2 separate regions of the Homo sapiens genome follow, and region 2 is linked to region 1. The links come from fine-mapping of genetic effects on gene expression. A gene starts in region 1. The other region holds a variant in brackets. All regions are shown on one strand. Distances are between the middles of the regions. Region 1 holds the start of CHTOP (chromatin target of PRMT1). Region 2 holds the start of LOC124904820 (small nucleolar RNA U13).

The links.
Region 2: its variant is fine-mapped to the expression of CHTOP in whole blood (INTERVAL, PIP above 0.99).

The regions. Positions count from the first base shown.
Region 1 is chr1:153,629,021-153,640,548 of GRCh38, forward strand. CHTOP (chromatin target of PRMT1) reads left to right here and starts at 5,046. Exons shown (of 6, transcript NM_015607.4): 1 at 5,046-5,323; 2 at 7,552-7,633; 3 at 9,275-9,428. The coding sequence starts at 7,569. S100A1 (S100 calcium binding protein A1) reads left to right here. Exons shown (of 3, transcript NM_006271.2): 2 at 1,489-1,642; 3 at 2,678-3,019. The coding sequence starts at 1,502. The coding sequence ends at 2,821. It also overlaps a transcript of S100A13 not described here. RefSeq lists enhancers at 1-382, 5,020-5,129 and a silencer at 5,470-5,549.
Region 2 is chr1:153,747,669-153,755,668 of GRCh38, forward strand. It overlaps INTS3 (integrator complex subunit 3), which reads left to right. Exons shown (of 30, transcript NM_023015.5): 6 at 1,021-1,087; 7 at 3,427-3,571; 8 at 4,611-4,740; 9 at 6,974-7,071. It overlaps LOC124904820 (small nucleolar RNA U13), which reads right to left and starts at 6,559; the gene lies at 6,456-6,559. The variant T/C (reference allele first, on the strand shown) is at 4,188.

The DNA of each region.
Region 1 (11,528 bases):
TGTAGGGTGCTGTGCCCCTTCCCAACTCGACCTCCACAGGACCTCCCCTTTCTCCTCCTCCCATTTTTGGCCCAGACCTCTTGACTCCTCTTTCCCCCCATTCTTACCTCTTTGTTTCCCCATCTCCCCTGCCCCCAAGTCCTCTCAGAACTGCCACCACGTAAAATCCCAGGCTGCTTTAGGGCTCCAGGTGACCTCCAGCTGCCCCTCTGGCATGGAGCAGGTAATCAAGCTACCAGCACCCCTCCCTCAAGCACCCCTTATCCCCTCATCAGCCACAGCTTGGGTTCCATCTCCCCCATGTCTCTGTGACAACTGCTTCTCAGGTCCGGAGTTCAGATGACACTCACAAGGGCCCCATTGAAGAACTGGGATGTCATTCGATCAGGGGCCATTGTCCAGCCCCCTAGGCCTGGGGAAGGATGGGGACATCTGATCCGAGACACCTGAGCTGCCCCCTCTGGGGTTGTGGAAGGCCAGACTGTCCCAGGGCCAAGGGAAAGAGGCCCCCCGGCTTGGCAGTCTTCTCTCTCAACAGACCACTCCTTTCTCCTTTCTTCTCCTACTCTCTCCCAGCCCCTTGAACTCAAAGGACCGCATGCTTTCAGCCCTTTCTCTCCCCCAACACACAGCAGCCCCATTCCCCTTGCTCCCACTATCCCCGAATCAACCAGGAGTGAGCAGTTGCAGGGACAACGCCTGCAGGTCTCCTCTCCCACTCCCTGGGAACTCTGGCTCCAAGGAAAAGGCTCAGACATTCCTCTCTCCCCTTCTGCCACCCACCAGATGGAAGGGATAATTTTGCAGAGGCAATGGGAGCATATCCCAAAGAAGCCAAAATGACATGTTCAGGAGAGAACAGAGTTGAAGGACCAAAAGGGGCCCCCAGCTGCTGACAGGAAACTCAGAGTCAGTGAGACCTCCCTCCCCCAGAAGGCGTACGCCACCCACTGGGGCTGCCATCCCCTCTACCAGGCTGACCGAGGGTACCAGACTGACTCCTTGCTAGGGGTGGGCAGCAGAAGGAAGGCTGTAGTGGACACCCCAGCCCACCACCCTCAACAGCAGAGCTTGGCTATGCTAGACAGGCAAGGTCCAGGGTAAAAATAGAGCCAGAGGAAGCATGGCCCAGTCCTGTGACCACCCCTGCCTGCCCCACCCTCCTCAATCCCTGCCTGGGCAGCCACTGCAGACATCTACCACAGGCCTCTGGAGCCAGCCCAGCTCCAACTGCTCTCTCTCCATGCCCCAACCCTGATTCCCTCTGGCTGGGGTACAGACTGAGGGACACAGAGAACAGGCCTGCACTTAGGTCTCTTGGGGTTTCCCTCACATTGTAAAATCTCAGGGAAAGATCAATTGCAGTAGGGCTCTAATCCCACAGCTATTTGAGCTGTCAGCCAGGGCCAGTCCTGAGGGTTCCCCTCACCTAGACCCCAGGTACTCCGGGCCTGGTCCTCAGCTCACTTCCATGATGGGGGTGGGTAGGTGCACTGCTGCAATGGGCTCTGAGCTGGAGACGGCGATGGAGACCCTCATCAACGTGTTCCACGCCCACTCGGGCAAAGAGGGGGACAAGTACAAGCTGAGCAAGAAGGAGCTGAAAGAGCTGCTGCAGACGGAGCTCTCTGGCTTCCTGGATGTGAGCATAGAGTGGTGGAGTGGGAGTGGAGTGGGTGAAGGTTGGGGGAATGGGGTGGACACCCCCTTGCTATCTCCCCACCCCACCTCCAGCTCAGCCTAGCCTCTTTCTTTCCTTTCCCAGGCTTCTCTCCTGGGTTTTTCCAGGCTCCCCTACTCCTCCTGGGTCAAGTCAAAATGCCCTGGTTTATTGATCACCTGTTAAGTGTTAGGCCCTGTGTAGATTCATCAATAATAAGACACACAGACTTAGAAGGGAAAGATTGACACTTAAAAGTAAACCATGAACTCCAGGAAATACACAGAGCCTTAACAGATGTACCAGAAAGGGTTATGAGAGATTATTAACCTGATTGAAGTCAGATGGCTTTCCTGAAGAGGTGGCACTTGAACCATGGATTTCCATTGGAAGATTATCTGGGTAAATGCAGACATTTTAGGAGGAGGTAACTGAATGAACAAAAGCATGGGAGAAAGAAGAATGTGGAGCATGTCAGTAGTTTCATTCAACTGGCATGAAGGATGTAGAAAACTAGGCTGCTAAGGCTAACCAGGGCCCCAAAGTAAAGAAGCCTCAGGATACGGTAGAAAGTGCACCGGTTTTGAGGTTTTATTGGACTGGGTTCAAATTCCAGCCCTGCTACTTTCTAGCTGTGGGACTTTGGGCATATTTATTTAACCACCGATTACCAATTTGTTTCTTCTCTAGAATGGAAATAATGAAACATACCTCACATTATTTGTATTAGAATTAAATTAGACAGTGCTTGTAAAGCTCCTAGTGTAGTGCTTGCTTTATTATAGGCACTGAACATACGGTAACTGGTGTCATTATTATTCATTCTGCCAGGTGAAAGAGCTTATGCTGTAGGCAACAGAAGCCCTCAAGACCTTTGAGGAGGCCTAGAAGAGTCCCATAATTCAATGCAGTTCCTCTCGCTCATCTTTGCCTCCTGCTCCTCAACCACCCCCTTGCCTCTGACTCAGTGCTGTACCCTTCCCTATACACCTCCCTCTTCCTCTCCTCCCACCACAGGCCCAGAAGGATGTGGATGCTGTGGACAAGGTGATGAAGGAGCTAGACGAGAATGGAGACGGGGAGGTGGACTTCCAGGAGTATGTGGTGCTTGTGGCTGCTCTCACAGTGGCCTGTAACAATTTCTTCTGGGAGAACAGTTGAGCAGACAGCCACATTGGGCAGCGCCCTTCCTCTCCACCCTCCCAGACCTGCCTCTTCCCCCTGCTTCCACCTCACCCCACTTATCCCTCTCCATAACCCCACCCTTGCCCACCCCACCCCCACCCCCACCAAGGGCGCAAGAGTAGCGGTCCAAGCCTGCAACTCATCTTTCATTAAAGGCTTCTCTCTCACCAGCCATCCGATGTCTGTCTCCTCTGGGATCTGGAAGTGGGTGGAGACGTGAAGACTGTTCACTCTCAACTCCCCTTATTTGGGGAAGTGTCTTATTTAGAAAGAGGTCAAGGTGCATTACATCTTCCTACTTGAGGAATGCTCAAGGTCCAGAAATGTGGGGGTTCAAGGTTCCAGTTGGAAGTCGAGGAGACATCAGCTTCTCAACTATAAAACCAGAGGAAGAAATAATCTTTTTTTTTTTTTTTTTTTTTTGGAGACACAGTCTGGCTCTGTCACCCAGGCTGGAGGGCAGTGGCACGATCTCGGCTCACTGCAACCTCCGCCTCCCAGGTTCAAGCGATTCACCTGCCTCAGCCTCCCGAGCAGCTGGGACTACAGGCGCCTGCCACCACGCCCGGCTAATTTTTTGTATTTTTAGTACAGACGGGGTTTCACCATGTTGGCCAGGATGGTCTCGATCTCCTGACCTCGTGATCCCCCCGCCTCGGCCTCCCAAAGTGCTGAGATTACAGGCATGAGCCACCGCGCTAGGCCGAAAGAATCTTCTTTCAATCAACGAACATTTACTTAAGTGGTACTATGTGTAAACACTGTAGGAACTGAGGCTCCAGCATTAAGCAAAATAACCACGATCCTTACCCTCACATGGGTAAGGATGCTGGGCCATTACTTACACACAGACACACACAAACACATACACACACGCACACGCCCAAGTGCCAGGAAGGAAAATGAAAGGGTCTTGACGTGCCAGTGGAGCAGAGGAAGGGTTGCAGATGTGTCATTCTCTCATTCCTCAAACATATGTACACTGTATTGTGCACATAGTCATTAGAAAAATCCCTTATTGAGGCCGGGCACAGTGGCTCACGACTGTAGTCCCAGCACTTTGGGAGACAGAGGCGGGCAGATCACTTGAGGTCAGGAGTTGGAGACCAGCCTGGTGAAACCCCATCTCTACTAAAAATACAAAAATTAGCGGGGCATGGTGGTACGCGCCTGTAATTCCAGCTACTCAGGAGGCTGAGGCAGGAGAATCGCTTGAACCTGGGAGGCGGAGGTTGCAGTGAGCCGAGATGGTACCACTGCACTCCAGTCTGGGTGACACAGCGAGACTCCATCTGCAAAAAGAAAAAAAAAAGAAAGAGAGAAAAATCCCTTATTGAGCAGGAAACATAGCTTATGCCCATAATCCTAGGAGTCGGGAGGCTGAGGTGAGAGGATCACCTGAGCCCAGTAGGTCAAGGCTGCAGTGATCCGTGATTCATTGCGCCACTGACTCCAGCCTGGACAACAGAGCCAGACCCCGTCTCAAAATAACAACAACAAATCAGAGAGAGAAAAGAGAAATCCCTATGTAGGTCTGCAACAAAATAAACACGGATGGCAGGTGTGGGGGGAGGACATGGAAACGCAATCGAGGACGCAAAGGTGCCCCACCCCAAGAAGGAGTAAACAGTATCTAGGCCAAGTTGGGGAGGGGAGGAAGTGAGGAGGAAAACATGGACGGGCGGTGGTGTTGGCCGGTGCAGGATGGGAGAGGAATTTGCTCCTAATACTGGCCTCCTGGGCCTTGGCTGGAGCATTTACGGCACTTCACAACTCTCAGACTGGGCGAGTGGCCATGAGGGGAAAACCAGTGCAAATTCCCCAGGCCCAATTGTCCGGAAGAAGACGAGGCAAGTCCGCGTAAAGATTTTTAGACGGTGTACCTTGGCTAGGGAACGGAGGGGCGAGGGAATTCGGGACCCAAATCCCCTCTAAGGCCCACATTAATAACTACCCCCAAGAGGTTGCAGCGCAACCACTACTGGAACGTGAAGTCCCCGGCACGCCCCAACAACAGGACCATTGGCCACGCCCCTAGGGGCGGGGCACTGCATGGAAAGCCCCGCCTTCGCCCTAAGGCTCCGCCTCTGACCTCTGCGCAGGCGTAGCTCAAATCTTTCCCGCCCTCTAGTCGTGCGCGGATCTGACGCCTGACGTAATTGCGTAGACGCCATTTTAGCCGGTCAGACAAGCACTGGACGTGGCGGCCATTTTGTTTTGGACACCGAGCAGGAGCTGGCGGCCGCTGCAGACGAAAGGCAGGAAAGGGCAGGCCGGGTGAGCAGACGGATCGGCCGACTAGACAGCCAACCAGCAACAACGAACTGAGCTCGCATACTACCGCTTACGCATCTAACCAACCGCCCATCTAGCTAACCCGAGCCCCTCCACCGTCAACTCAGGTTCGGCCGGTCCCCGGCCCGCCTGCCGGAGCCGTGGTGGCAGCCCCGGGAGGAGCACTGGCGTCTGTTTCCTTCGGTGAGTTTCGGTAGTGAGAAGGAGCCGGGGGAGGTGCGGTCTTGAGGAGCGGAAGGGGCCGGCGGACGCGGAAAGGGGGTGGTGGCATGTGGACATAGCTACGGTGTTGGAGCGTGGAGGCCCCGGGGAGGAGGCGGAGCCCCTGCGAAGGGGCGGGGGAGGGGCTGAACTGGAACCTGGTGGCGGGATTGATGGAGGTTGGGGTTTGATAGGATAAAAAGGAAACTTGGCGGGTAGAGCAGAAGTGGAAGTCTTGACAGGGCTTTGAGGATGGTAGGGAGATTAAGAAGTACAAGACTTTGAGGAATGTTGGAAATTAATGGCGGCTTTAGGGTTAAGTTTTGTGGAGGGCTCTTTGCGAGCTAATTCCCAGGTGAATTTAGAAAACCTTTCCTACTCCCCCAGATCGTCAGTTTCTTGTTAAAGTCCCTACTTGATTCTGGAGTTGAAAGCCACTTTTGAAACTAGGCATGCATATATATATGTATATATATACATACATATATATATATATTTTTTTTTGGGGGGGGACGGAGTTTCGCTCTTGTTGCCCAGGCTGGAGTGCAATGGCACGATCTCAGCTCACTACAACTTCCGCCTCCCGGGTTCAAGCGATTCTCCTGCCTCAGCCTCCGGAGTAGCTGGGATTACAGCCATGCGCCACCACGCCCGGCTAATTTTGTATTTTTAGTAGAGACATTTCTCCATGATGGTCAAGCTGGTCTCGAACTCCCAACCTCAGGTGATCCGCCCGCCTCGGCCTCCCAAAGTGCTGGGAAAACAGGCGTGAGCCACCGCGCCCGGCCCTGCCTGTATTTTCACTGTAGATCAGTGGTTCTCAACTTTAGCTGCACATTAGAAGCACCTAGGTAGCTTTCCCCCGACCCCACAATTGGTTCATTTCCAAACCTCATTACCAGAGATTGTGGTTTAATTGATCTAGGCCCAGATGTCTGTATTTTCTATTTTTTTAATTAATTTATATTTTTATAGAAACGGGGTCTTACCATGTTGCCCAGGCTGGTCTCGAGCTCCAGGGCTCAAGCATTCCTCCCGCCTTGGCCTCCCAAAGTGCTGAGATTACAGGCGTGAAGCACCGCGCCCGCCCTGTCCGGCCCTATGTTTTAAAAGCTCCTTGGATAAGTCATATGTAGTCAAGGTTGAAAATGACTGCTCTAGAGTAAAAGCCAAACTCGGCCCGGTGCGGTGGCTCACGCCTGTAATCCCAGCACTTTGGGAGGCCCAGGTGGGTGGATCAGGTGAGGTCAGGAGTTCAAGACCACCCTGGCCAACGTGGAGAAACCCCGTCTCTACTAAAAATAAAAAAAAATTAGCCGGGCATGGTGGCACGTGCCTGTAGTCCCAGCTACTCAGGAGGCTGAGGCAGGAGAATGGCTTGAACGGGGAGGCAGAGGTTGCAGTGAACTGAGATCACGCCTCTGCACTCCAGCCTGGGCGACAGAGCCAGACTCTGTCTCAAAAAAAAAAAAAAGCCAGACTCCATACTTTGATTGCTAGATTGGCTTCTGCCGTTTTTGAGAAATTCCCGGGTATTTTGTGGGCCTTGAAGTTTGTTTGTTTGTTTGGGGTTATTTGTTTGTTTTAAAGAGATGGGGTCTCAGGCCAGAGTGCAGTGGCATGATCACGGCTCTTTGCAGCCTCCAACCCCTGGGCTCTAGCGATTCTCCCACCTCAGCTCCCCTGAGTAGCTAGGACAACAGGTGCTGGCCACCATGCACCGCTAATTTTTTTTTTTTTTTTTCTTAGTAGAGACTGGGTCTCGCTTTGTTACCCAGGCTGGTCTCTAACTCCTGGCTTCAAACCATCCTGTGCCCTTGCCCTCCCAAAGTGTTAGGGTTACAGGCGGTGAACCACCATACCCAGCCACCTTGAAGTTATAATAATCTGAGGTAATTGCCATAGAAACTTAAGAACTTTTGCTGGGCGTTGGGTCCCAGTGATCCCAACACTGGGAGGCCAAGGTGGGAAAATCCTTTGAGGCCAGGAGATTACGGCTGCAGTGGCCACTGCATTCCAGCCTGAGTGACAGAGCGAGACCCTGTCTCAAAAAAAAAAAAAAAAGAAATTTAAGCACTTGAAATGTGCCCTCGTGTGCTCTTTAGTCATCAGTGATAAGGCCTTTTTATTTATTTTTGGCTTGGGCCTTGCCACTTATAGAAATGATGTCACTATTGTGATTTGCTCATTTTACGTATTGTTCTTTGTAGATTCTCGGGATTCGAAGATGGCTGCACAGTCAGCGCCGAAAGTTGTGCTAAAAAGCACCACCAAGATGTCTCTAAATGAGCGGTGAGGCAGCCAACAGCAACTTCAACTCCTTCCTAAGAAAACATTACTTAACTTGGCCCTGGGGTCCAATGCACAAAGCCAATTTTAAGCTAAATACCAACAGAAGGCTACAGACCTCTGTTCTTAGTTGCATCTCATGTGGTACACAAAACAAATTGGGCGGTTGTTTCAAAACCCCTTATCAGTAGACTTTTATGTTAAGCTGTCTGAAGTATTTATTTGGTGGGATGTATTTTAAAAGACTCCTAACACTCTTCCTTTTCACATTTTTTTACGTTGATACTGGGGTCGTGCAGCACGGTAGCATGGTACCCTGGCTACAGTAGGCTTGCTGCCCAGTCCAAGGCCAGCAGTGTTGTGTCTGGCCTGTAAGAGGCAGGTAGCAAGCCATGAATATGTCCAAAGGCCCTTGAATGTCATTCTTGGGCCTTGTAAGAGGCACTCGCTTTGCTCCATTTCACTTTCTTTCCATTCTGCTTTTAGTTTGGTTTTGTTTTGGATTCTTCTACAGTTAAGTGTTCTTCTCTTCCATTCCATTATACTTCCTTGACAGAAATAATGAGTCTCTTCACAGGCTCATAAATGATCAAACTGATGTAACTTTGAAAAGTAACTACTTGGAGTCAGAAAAAGTGATGATTGGAGACTAAGAAAAGTAAAGATATTCAAAGGCAGTTTCTATCTCTGACAACTTTGTTCATTAAGAGTGCCTTTGTTTAGGCGCGGTGGCTCATGCCTGTAATCCCAGCACTTTGGCAGGCTGAGGCGGGCGGATCACGAGGTCAGGAGTTTGAGATCAGCCTGCCCAACATGGTGAAACCCTGTCTCTACTAAAAATAGAAAAATTAGCTGGGCGTGGTGGCGTGTGCCTATAATCCCAGCTACTCAGGAGGCTGAGGTAGGAGAATCACTTGAACCCGTGAGGCGAAGGTTGCAGTGAGCCAAGATCCTGCCACTGCACTCCAGCCAGGGCAACAGAGGACAGAGTGAGGCTCCGTTTCAAAAAAAAGAATGCCTTTGATCAGTGATTTCATTAAGTTGACTTTCGACCACTGAAATTTACTTAATGTCTATTTTTGCCTCTTCTGAGGCATATGTGCTTCTCTCCTTATCTCTTTGGCTATGATAAGCTAATTATTTATGTTTGCATAATATTTATGTTTGCATGTTAGTGACATATATTTTAAAATGTGATACACTCCTGTAATTTATGAGAGTATGTTCATTGCTGTGAGCTTTGAAGGTGCTCTAATCCTTCCTCATATTTGGCCTTAGAATGCACCTCGGATCCCCCAAGGTTTAGGCTTTCTTCATTTGTCTTTGAAACTATATCTTCTGTCTCTTGTCATATCTGCTTATTGCGTGTTTTTCATACCTTCCACCTCTCTAAAAGCCGTTACCTGAGCCCTCGTTATCACTTTTGGTTGAATGTGCTGCACTTAGCTGCATTTCTAAGTTTCTGATTCTTGCAAGTTTGTGGAAACAGAGGAGTCTTTAACCCACATCAGCCTTGATCTAAGTGTACCACTTTACTTAAAAGTTCGTGGGATCTGGAGCTCCTGGTCTAGCAAGCCATGAAAATGCCAATAAATGTTTGTAATAAAGCTTTTATTTAAACATCCATTTTGTTCGACCTTGAAGCTTTACTAATATGCTGAAGAACAAACAGCCGACGCCAGTGAATATTCGGGCTTCGATGCAGCAACAACAGCAGCTAGCCAGTGCCAGAAACAGAAGACTGGCCCAGCAGATGGAGAATAGACCCTCTGTCCAGGCAGCATTAAAACTTAAGCAGGTGAGAGAATGGGTCTTAATGCTCCAGAAGCAGCTGGTGATCTCTGTGAGGGAGTCCACTGAGGCTGTCAGGACGTGATGGATGATTGCAAAGTGGCTCAGGGCAAAAAGCTGAAACTTCTCTGGAAGAAAGAGAAGTTCAGAGAATTCCAATTTTGGCAGGTACCAATAAGTAACTTTTTACTGTCTTTCTCTTTTAGGGAGTTTGCCATCTATGTGGCCTGTTTCTGTTACCAATGAGTATTAATCTTTTGTTTTCTGATCCTTAACCCTTAACATAGATTAATGGCTTATTCCACAAAGAAACTTTATTTCAGCTTTAGATAATCTCACAGCATCCTTTACTCTCTGTTAAATGATTTACCCAACAGGGAAATAATTTTATTCTTTTTCCCATAGTGCAGGGAGTTTGCATGGCCTTAGTCAAAGGTTTTCTTTTTTTTTTTTTTTTTAGACGGAGTCTTGCTCTGTCGCCCAGGCTGGAGTGCAGTGGCACGATCTCGGCTCACTGCAAGCTCCGCCTCCCGGGTCCATACCATTCTCCTGCCTCAGCCTCCCGAACAGCTGGGACTAAAGGTGCCCGCCACCACACCCAGCTAATTTTTTTGTATATTTAATAGAGACAGGGTTTCACCATACTAGCCAGGATGGTCTCGATCTCCTGACCTCGTGATCCACCCGCCTCGGCCTCCCAAAGTGCTGGGATTACAGGCTTGAGCCACCGCGCCCAGCAGTCAAAGGTTTTCAATGCTAAAATATACAGAGTAGAGTGACCCTCATTTCCACAGCACCTAAAGTTTTACCAGTAAAGTGGAGCAAGAATACTGAGTAATTTGAGTTAGGGGTTCTCTTTTTCAAATTTACAGTGAGAGATAATCCTATTCAGACCTGAAATAAAACCTGCTCTTTATTATTCATAGAATTTATATGCAAGTCCGGACAGTGGCTGTGGAAGGATATGTCCAAGCTGTGGCTGGGCGTCTGGAGGGCAGTGCCATGCAACTGTAAGGGCTTTGGTAGCATTGCATGGCTATGCATAAATTCAGCAGTTAAATATAACACCCTTACACCCCCACCCTGAACCATTGGGCTCACTGACCAAAAATAAACAAGGGTGTCTGCTTCGGCTACCTTAAGCCTTGGAGTGACTGGATTCCTCCCTGACTCAGGAAAGCAGCAAAAGGCACCATTTTCCAAGAGTAAATGGAAGTTGCTGAAGATGAATCTCTGACAGATCATTCCAAAGGACCTTTCAACAAGAAGCTTTAAGTATAGGCTCTGCAGGAAGTAGTCCCTATCCAGAGTAGTACTATTAAATAGAATTTTTTTATGTTTTTGGTTTGGTTTGGTTTGGTTTGTTTTGAGACGGAGTCTTGCTCTGTCACCCAGGCTGTAGTGCAGTGGTGCAATCTCAACTCACTGCAGCCTCCGCCTCCCGGGTTCAAGCGATTCTCCTGTCTCAGCTACAGGCGCCCGCCACCACACCCGGCTAATTTTTGTATTTTTAGTAGAGACGGAGTTTTGTCATGTTGGCCAGACTGGTCTTGAACTCCTGACCTCAAGTGATCTGCCTGCCTCAGTATCCCAAAGTGTTCAGATTACAGGCATGAGCTACCGTGCCCAGCCAGAACTTTCTACAATGATGGAAATGTTCTGTATTTGCTCTCCGGTACAGTAGCCACTAGTCACATGTGGCTATTGAAAACTTTAAATGTGACTAGTGCAATTAAGGAGCTTAATTTTTTTTAATTTAATTTTAGGCCAGGCCTGTAATCCCAGCACTCTGGGAGGCCAAGGCAGGCGGATCACTTGAGGTCAGGAGTTTGAGACTAGCCTGGCCAATGTGGCAAAACCCCATCTCTACTAAAAAAAAAAAAAAGCCGGGCATGGTGGCGCATACCTGTAATCCCAGCTACTCAAGAGGCTAAGGAGAATCTCTTGAACCCAGGAAGTGGAGGTTGCGGTGAGTGGAGTTGGCACCACTGCATTCCAGCTTGGGTGACAGTGAGACTCTGTCTCAAGAAAATAAGTAAAATTTGCTTTTAATTTAGGCTGGGTATGGTGGCTCACACTTGTAATCCCAGCACTTTGGGAGGCCTGG
Region 2 (8,000 bases), 120 kb after region 1:
GAAATGGGGAGAGAAGTGAGGGCAATTAATTTGTTCTCAAGTCCCTGTGCTTTCAGAAACCTAGACATCTTCCCTGGCTCCACCCCCATTATCTGAACGCTTGCTCCCTAATAATTAAGCCCTTTACTGGGGCCAGAATGAGGGACAAACTATGTCACAGAACAGACCCTGACATTTAGGTTTTATTCTCATCTTGGCATCGGTGACATCTGTCTGAGCTATCGCATATTCAAGCGGCTACTCCCAAGATTGCATGTGTTTGTTTAAAAGTGACCTGCTACTACCTCACCATTAGCCCACTGGGACTTGCTTCCTCTTTAAAATTTTATGTAACACTGATGCTCCTGTTTTGATGTGTATGAACCTTAATCTATGTGATATGTGACTTTGTGAACATTGAATTTTTTAATTGAGACCTGGGGCAAGGCATAGTTGTAGCTATTTTTATCCTCTTTCCTGGCACTTCTTCCCTGTTTGGCACTTCCAGCCCCTGCTTCTTATCCCAAGACTGGTATGGCATTGCTGTGTGTTAATTCTGCCCCACAGAGTTTCATAGCAAGCACTAAAGACTGTTACCTGGAAATAAGAAACTCTTGGCCTGTTGGGGGCCTCAGTGCAGGACTCAGGACATCCAGTTGCTAGACTGCAGCTGTTGTCAGCCACCTGTACTTCTCAGGCTCTATCTGAGATATCATCCTTTCTTTCCAACTGTGGGCTTCTTATATCTACTTCTCAGACGTTCATTTTCAAGGGCCAAAATGTTCCCACTCCAACTCACAATCTGTGGGAAAGTAGCAGCTCTGGTTTCTAGAAAAATTCAGAACCTTCCCTTTCCTTCTTTCTGGAGGCAAAGGGTGAAACTTTAAAGCCTGACAGAACAGAAGGCAGTTTATCTCAGCAGTGAAGGGATGGCAGTAATGGGATGGCAGTCAGGGTGGACCAGCAGAATGGGTGAAGAGATGTATTGGATTGGCTGACTTGCTAATCGGAGCTATTCTTTTTTTCCCCTTTTGAAATCAGGTGGAGATGTTACAGCCAAAAATATCTGGTTGGCAGAAAGTGTTCTGGATATCCTGACAGAGCAAAGGTAGCATCCACCACGAAGGGTGGGGTACAGGCCAGATAATGGCCATTAGGAGTGTGGGTGTGGGAAATGGGGATGAAAGGATTGTGTGGCCCAAGAACACCTTAAGTTAGAGAGGGGGAGGCAAGGAGAGGGAGAGACAAGTGTATTGTTGGCAAGTGAAGAAATTAATGCCCAAGGAATGAAGGAATGGGAAAGAGGTCTTTGCCAAAATATCGCATAGCCCAGAAAAACTGGCTTCATCTGATAAGGGTTTATTTTTGATCCAGACCTCCTTGGAATGTTTATCTTAGGGGGAAGTTGGGGAGGAATGAGCTCAGTAGAATTGGGCCAGCCAAACACCCACGCCTGGCAGGTATCCTTTTCTCCCCTGCAAGCTTCTCCATCCAACCCCTGCTCTTTTTGAAGTGGCACAGGGGGCAGTTGGGGTGGAGCAGGTAATAGAGATTAGTGAATCCTGCTGGAGTTTGCATATAGGGTTTGGAGGTTCCAGTGGTAGAGGGTGCATCAGGGGGTACATATTGGGCTTTCTGGCTGATTCTTTCCCTTATCCATCAAAATAAAGGGCCAGAAATTTTATGAGGGCTATTCCACATCTGAACTTGTTTGGAGGTGAGGCTTTCCCCTTGGTTTCAGTCTTCCTCTTGCTTGACTTCTAAGTCTCTTTTCTGATTGAGGACACCATAGTAGTCAAATGATTGAGAGGGCTAATAGTGTCCATACTATCTGTAGTTCAGAAGAATGGACCTCCTCCCAACGTTCACACTTGTGAAAGAGATGGCTGTGTGCTGTGCTCTGCCCAGGTCTGAGAGCCCTGCCCTGTCTGCTGTGCAGTGCCACCTAGTGCTCTGGGCACGGATGTGCAGCCACATCTGGGCCTGGAGCCACTTCTGTTATTGGTGTCATTGCACTAGCACGTGAGATCCTAACAGTCTCTTCTTACCAGATAGGTCTTTGTTCCTTTTTACTGTCCTGGGTCAGGGGGCCTTTCAACTCTTTCTTTCTCTTTATTATGCCATTCCAGGATTCAGGTAATTTCGTTACCTTTGCTAGCAATCTTTCTAAAAAGTGATTTTTCTTATTTTATTCGTGGTACCAAATACGTCCTGTCCCCATACCTTAAAGCTGAATTTCCTGTACAGGCATCAGATAACAGCCAGATAACTGCCCTGTTTTCTACCCTCCAAAAAACTTACATCTTTTGGTGAAAGTCAATACCTAGAAATTTAAAACTGTGTCCTCTCCTACACCCTCCTTCTCACTCCCTTCCAAATGTTTCTAGGGCTGTGGAGTTAAAAGGTAGCAGGTAGGGGAGGAAACGTTCCCCAGTAACCTTGGCTAGTGTATCCATTCTGTGAAAAGAAAAGGCCACAGAGTCTTTTAATTAGGTGGCTTGAGTAGTTTTCCGGAATCAGGATGTGGCCTGCTTGGACTAATTAAACACCATCTCATCTTCCTGCAGTTCCCTGCCTTCCAACAGGGGGGCCAAAGCCATTACAAATTGTTTGCTGGGAGGAGACAGCGTCTCAATTTTGTCACTTAGAGACAGGATTAGAGTTTTAGGAATATCCCCACTGTGTCTTTCTCTCTACTCCTTTTAAAGCAACTGGGAACAAATCTTTCATTACCCCCTTTTCCCTCAGGGATATTCTGAAACTCATGGGAAAAGGAGTTTGCCACCCAAAATCGGGTTCTTTTTTTCAGGTTGTGATTTAGGACAGGTGACTCATTGTGTGGGAGTGGGGACTCGTTGTGTATCAGTGACTAGATAGAGCCAGGGAAAGGTTTGTGGCATGGTGAGCTGCTAATGATAAGCAGACTGAGCTAGCACAGTATGTTCTCAAAACTCCAGGTCCTGAAAGGGTCTTGGCAGTCCCCACATGTTCTTGCACCACACTTAAGAACCACTGACTTAGGGACACTTACCCAGCTTTTCCCCATAGTCTGACCTGGGTAGATACTGTGGTTAATTCTGTCCCTAGTACCTCACATGTTGCTTGGCACATGATAGGCACTCAGTAAATGTTTGAATGAATGAGTCAACAAAGAGAGTTATTTTCTTGGAAGCTAAGTAGTTAGGTGGTAAAAAGAGATTGCTTTCATTTGGCACTTATCTTTATAGGCACTTGGAAGAGAAAATTAGGAAGTTGTCCGTAGCTTAGCCAGTTGATAGTCCAAGATAGATACTAGCATGAGTGAGCAAGCAAAAAATCAAAGCATCTACTCCCAGTGTCAAATCATCAATTATTTCTGAGGCACTGTAGCCAAGCCCAAGAAGCGTGAATTGGGAGGGTGAATAGTTCTAGACAGAGCATAGGAGCCAGTGTGTTTCCTCCCTGCAGGGAGTGGGTCCTGAAGAGCAGCATCCTCATTGCCATGGCTGTTTACACGTACCTCCGCCTCATCGTGGACCACCATGGGACTGCCCAGCTCCAGGCCCTGCGACAGAAGGAAGTAGACTTCTGCATCTCACTGCTTCGGGAACGGGTGAGGGAACAGGACAAAAATAATGTGGGGAAGTGAGACTCAGGCTAAGATACCTCTGGAGGTTTATGCAGTGGAGTCAGAAATACCTTGTTAGAGATGAAGGTGCATCAAGATCTGGTGTTTTCCATCATTCATCAACAGATGAGGGTAGAAAGGAGGGGGAGTTAGTGTAAAATAGCCCTAATTCCTAGAAATGCTACCTGTTAAGCTGGCATCTTTGGGATTTCCCTGGTCAGCTTCAAGGATACTGTTGTATACCACAGACATAAGCTGTCCTTGTGTGCCTACCATGACACAGTCCCCCACCTACTCTCCTGGGTAATTCCCATGGTCTAGTGGGATTATGAATTGTCCTCTATCAGACCTCCCATGTGGCAATTAAAAATTTTTTTTACTTTTTATTTTTGTAGATACTGGGCCTTGCTTTGTTGCCCAGGCTGATCTCAAACTCCTGGCCTCAAGTGATCCTCCCACCTCAGTCTCCCAAAGTGTTGGGATTATAGGCGTGAGCCACTCTGCCCAGCCTAAAATTAATGTTAGATAAAAAGTTAAAATTCACTTCTCTAGTTGCATTAGCTACACGTTGCTAATGGGTTTCATTTAGACTACACAGATA[T/C]AGACATTTCTACCACAGAATCGGACCCACAGAATTAGATACTGCAGAATTTTGTTAGACAAAATAAGTTTGAGGTTAGGGTTTCTGGGGCTCAACTTGCCAGTCCCATCCTTTTGAAACTTTAATCTTCCTTGAACTGGATTGAAACAGTTCTGAGTGGAGAGGGAGGTAGATTAATGTGAAAGCCAGCAGGGCTTCAGCACTTCCCACTAACCTCTCATCCTTGATATCAGTCCCCAGCTTCCAGCTCTCTTCCCCTGAACAGCTAGGAGCCAATCCTTTGGTTCCAGAAGAAATCATAGTTTCTTCAACCCTCTTTCCTTCCCTCCCTAGAACATGTTGTTCCTTTGTCCTCCCTCCAGCAGGTAAACAATCCATGTTTTTATTCTCTTTCCTGTCCCCCACTTCCTCTTCCCTATCAAGTTCATGGAATGTCTGATGATTGGTCGGGATCTCGTAAGACTACTTCAGAATGTTGCTAGGATACCAGAATTTGAACTGCTTTGGAAAGATATTATCCATAATCCTCAGGCCTTGAGTCCTCAGTTCACAGGTAAGTAGGGTCTTAGGCATCCTGTCCTTGAGAGCTGGGAGTTCAATGTGTATGTCTTGCTTGAATCAAGAAGGTAGAGGTTGGTGGGTAGGAGAGTCTTTGGTGGTCAGATTTAGGAAGCCTGGGACAGGGCAAGCTTTGCCAAGTACAACTGCGAATGGCAGAGGTACAGAACAATTCATGTAGTTCCTAGACAGCCCCTACTTGGCAGACTCCAGCTGCCACATTACTACTAAGAAAAAAGTGAGACAGATAACTGTAGTCCTCCTCCCCTCTTCCTGGCAGCTCCTTGGCTCAGGAGGTGAGCCAGTGGCCAGTGTTCAGCTTCACGGAGTCTAGCAGGGGAGTCAGAGGTCAACTCGTGAGACTGAGTCAGTAGAGGGCTGGAATTAGTCCTGTAAGAGAAGGCCCCTCCCTGGGAACAGTCTTGCCTCGAATTCCAAGGATCCAGCTTGGGCAAAATCCACTTTGGAGGAGGGAGTCTCCGTGTGCCTCCTCCCGACAAGGTCCTTTTTATATCCCTTTCCCTTTCCCAGGGTCCTGCTATGTTCTGAACAATAACTGTACAGCTTTGCTCCCCACCCCACCTCAACACACACGTGCTTGTGATCGTGCATGCACCCGCTCCCCTCCTACACACACACACACACACACACACACACTCACTCTGAAGGCAGTTGTCCAGGACCTGGGAAGTCAGGAAAGAAGAAAGTGCTGGAAATTGTAGTACTCTTATATTGAACATCTATTTCATTGCTTTAAGTGCCTCCACTGTGTTAGACAAACATGTGTTACCTCATTTAATCTTCTGGACAGCCCTGTGAGTATTTTAGTTTCTACATTTATACATAAAGAAACTGAGGTTTGAGGCCGGGCGCGGTGGCTCACACCTGTAATCCCAGCACTTTGGGAGGCCGAGGCGGGCGGATCACGGGGTCAAGAGTTCAAGACCATCCTGGGCAACATGATGAAACCCTGTCTATACTAAAAATGCAAAAATTAGCTGGGCATGGTGGCACATGCCTGTATTCCCAGCTACTCGGGAGGCTGAGGCAAGAGAATCGCTTGAACCCAGGAGGTGGAGTTTGCAGTAAGCCGAGATCGCGCCACTGCACTCCAGCCTGGCGACAGAGTGAGACTCTGTCCCAAAAAAAAGAAAAGAAAAGAAAAGAAACTGAGGTTTAAGGAGATGAAGTAATTTGCCCAAGGCTGTACAGCTGGTAGGTTAGGTGACAGAGGCAGGTCTCTTTTTTTTTTTTTTTTTTGAGACGGAGTCTTGCTCTGTCCCTCAGGCTGGTGTGCAATGGCGTGATCTCAGCTCACTGCAACCTCCGCCTCCTGGGTTCAAGCGATTCTCCCGCCTCAGCCTCCCAGGTAGCTAGGATTACAGGCACCTGCCATCATGCCCAGGTAAATGTTGTATTTTTGTAGAGATGGAGTTTCACCATGTTGGCCAGGCTGGTCTTGAACTCCTGACCTCAAGCAATCCACCTGCCTTGGCCTCCCAAAGTGCTGAGATTACAGGCATGAGCCACCGCACCTGGCCTCTTTTTTTTTTTTTTTTTTTCTGTTTTTTAAGATGGGGTGTCACCATGTTGCCAAGGCTGGTCTTGAACTCGTAGGCTCAAGGGAGCCACCTGCCTCGGCCTCCCAAGGTGCTAGGATTACAGGTGTGAGCCACCATGCTGGTCTTTTAAATTATTTTTGTTCTCTCATGTCAGGCAGGTAATGTGGGGACATGGTAACAAGGTTTGAGGGAGGCACATCTCACGCATGAGTGTGAAAAACCAATAATCATGCTTATGAGCTACAATAGGATCTGGATCCACATGTTTCTGACTCCAGGGCTCATGCTCATGCCACAAATAACATTGATTCCAGGACCCAAGGATGGGATCATCAGGAGCAGGAAGAGCAGCCAGGGTTTCCCATATTTTTCCCTTAACTTTCCCATCTGTTACCAGTGGGAATCATGTGGGTAGGAGACTCTGGAAGACCAGCAGAAGACAGGAAGTAATATAGCTGGGTCCTGGGGATAGTGGTTGTTTGGAGCAGAACACGTAAGTGCTGGTTGGAATCCCCACCTGTGCTTGACCTCCCTTGGTCTTGTCTTGGAATTTCTCCGTGAGCAAGACTACTGGCCATCAGTACCTGGCCCAGGTTCCCAACATGCCTTTCATTCTTTCTGGTCCTTAGGCTTCCTCTTTTCTCTTCCCTTCCACATTTGATTCAGGTATCCTACAGCTTCTTCAGTCAAGAACATCCCGAAAATTCCTAGCATGTCGTCTAACCCCGGACATGGAGACTAAACTCCTCTTCATGACATCCCGGGTAAGCTAAGGTGTTGCAGCAAGAGAAGAGGTCACACGCTGGCTGGGCTTCTTGCTTCGGTCTGTGGAGCTGTTACCATTGTTTACTAACCAGTAGAATGGTGGCTAAATGATCGTACCTGATCTACCTGGCTACTGGCTTCTTTGTCCTTTATTCATTCTGTGCCTACATATTGAGCATGGTGCTAAGGATTGGGGGTACACTGTCGAATAAGAGAGATACAGTTCCAGCTGTTGTGAAGCTTTTAGTTTATCTAAAGTAGTCACTAAACCAATAATTATATAGAAATACTAGTATCATTTACAAGTGTGAAATATTCTATAAAGGGGAGAGTGAAAGTGTTCACGCTAAGAAACCCACGATTGCTCCAGGAGAACCATGAGGTCTCAGGAAGAAAGCTATGTATGTTTCCAGACTTGACTGAATAATGGCAGAATTACTTGAGCATGTTAAAGATGCAGCTTCCTGGATCCCACTCTCCTAGATAATTTGATTGAGGAATTTGTGGGGTTTTTTTTTTGGTTTTGTTTGTTTGTATTTTGAGATGGAGTTTCGTTCTTGTTGCCCAGGCTAGAGTGCAGTGGCGCGATCTCGGCTCTCCGCAGCCTCCGCCTGTTGGGTTCAAGTGATTCTCCTGCCTCAATCTCCCAAGTAGCTAGGATTACAGGCATGCACCACACCTGGCAAATTTTGTATTTTTAATAGAGACGGGATTTTTCCATGTTGGTCAGGCTGGTCTCGAACTTCCGACCTCAGGTGATCCACCTGCCTCAGCCTCCCAAAGTGCTGGGATTACAGGCGTGAGCCACTGCACCCAGCCAGAATCTGTTTTTAGCAGACTTCCCAGGCCATTCCTCTGCGGCCAGTCTGGCTGTCGAGAACTGCTTTCCTAATCAGCTTTCCCAAGTCACCCAGAATAATTGTCCAGG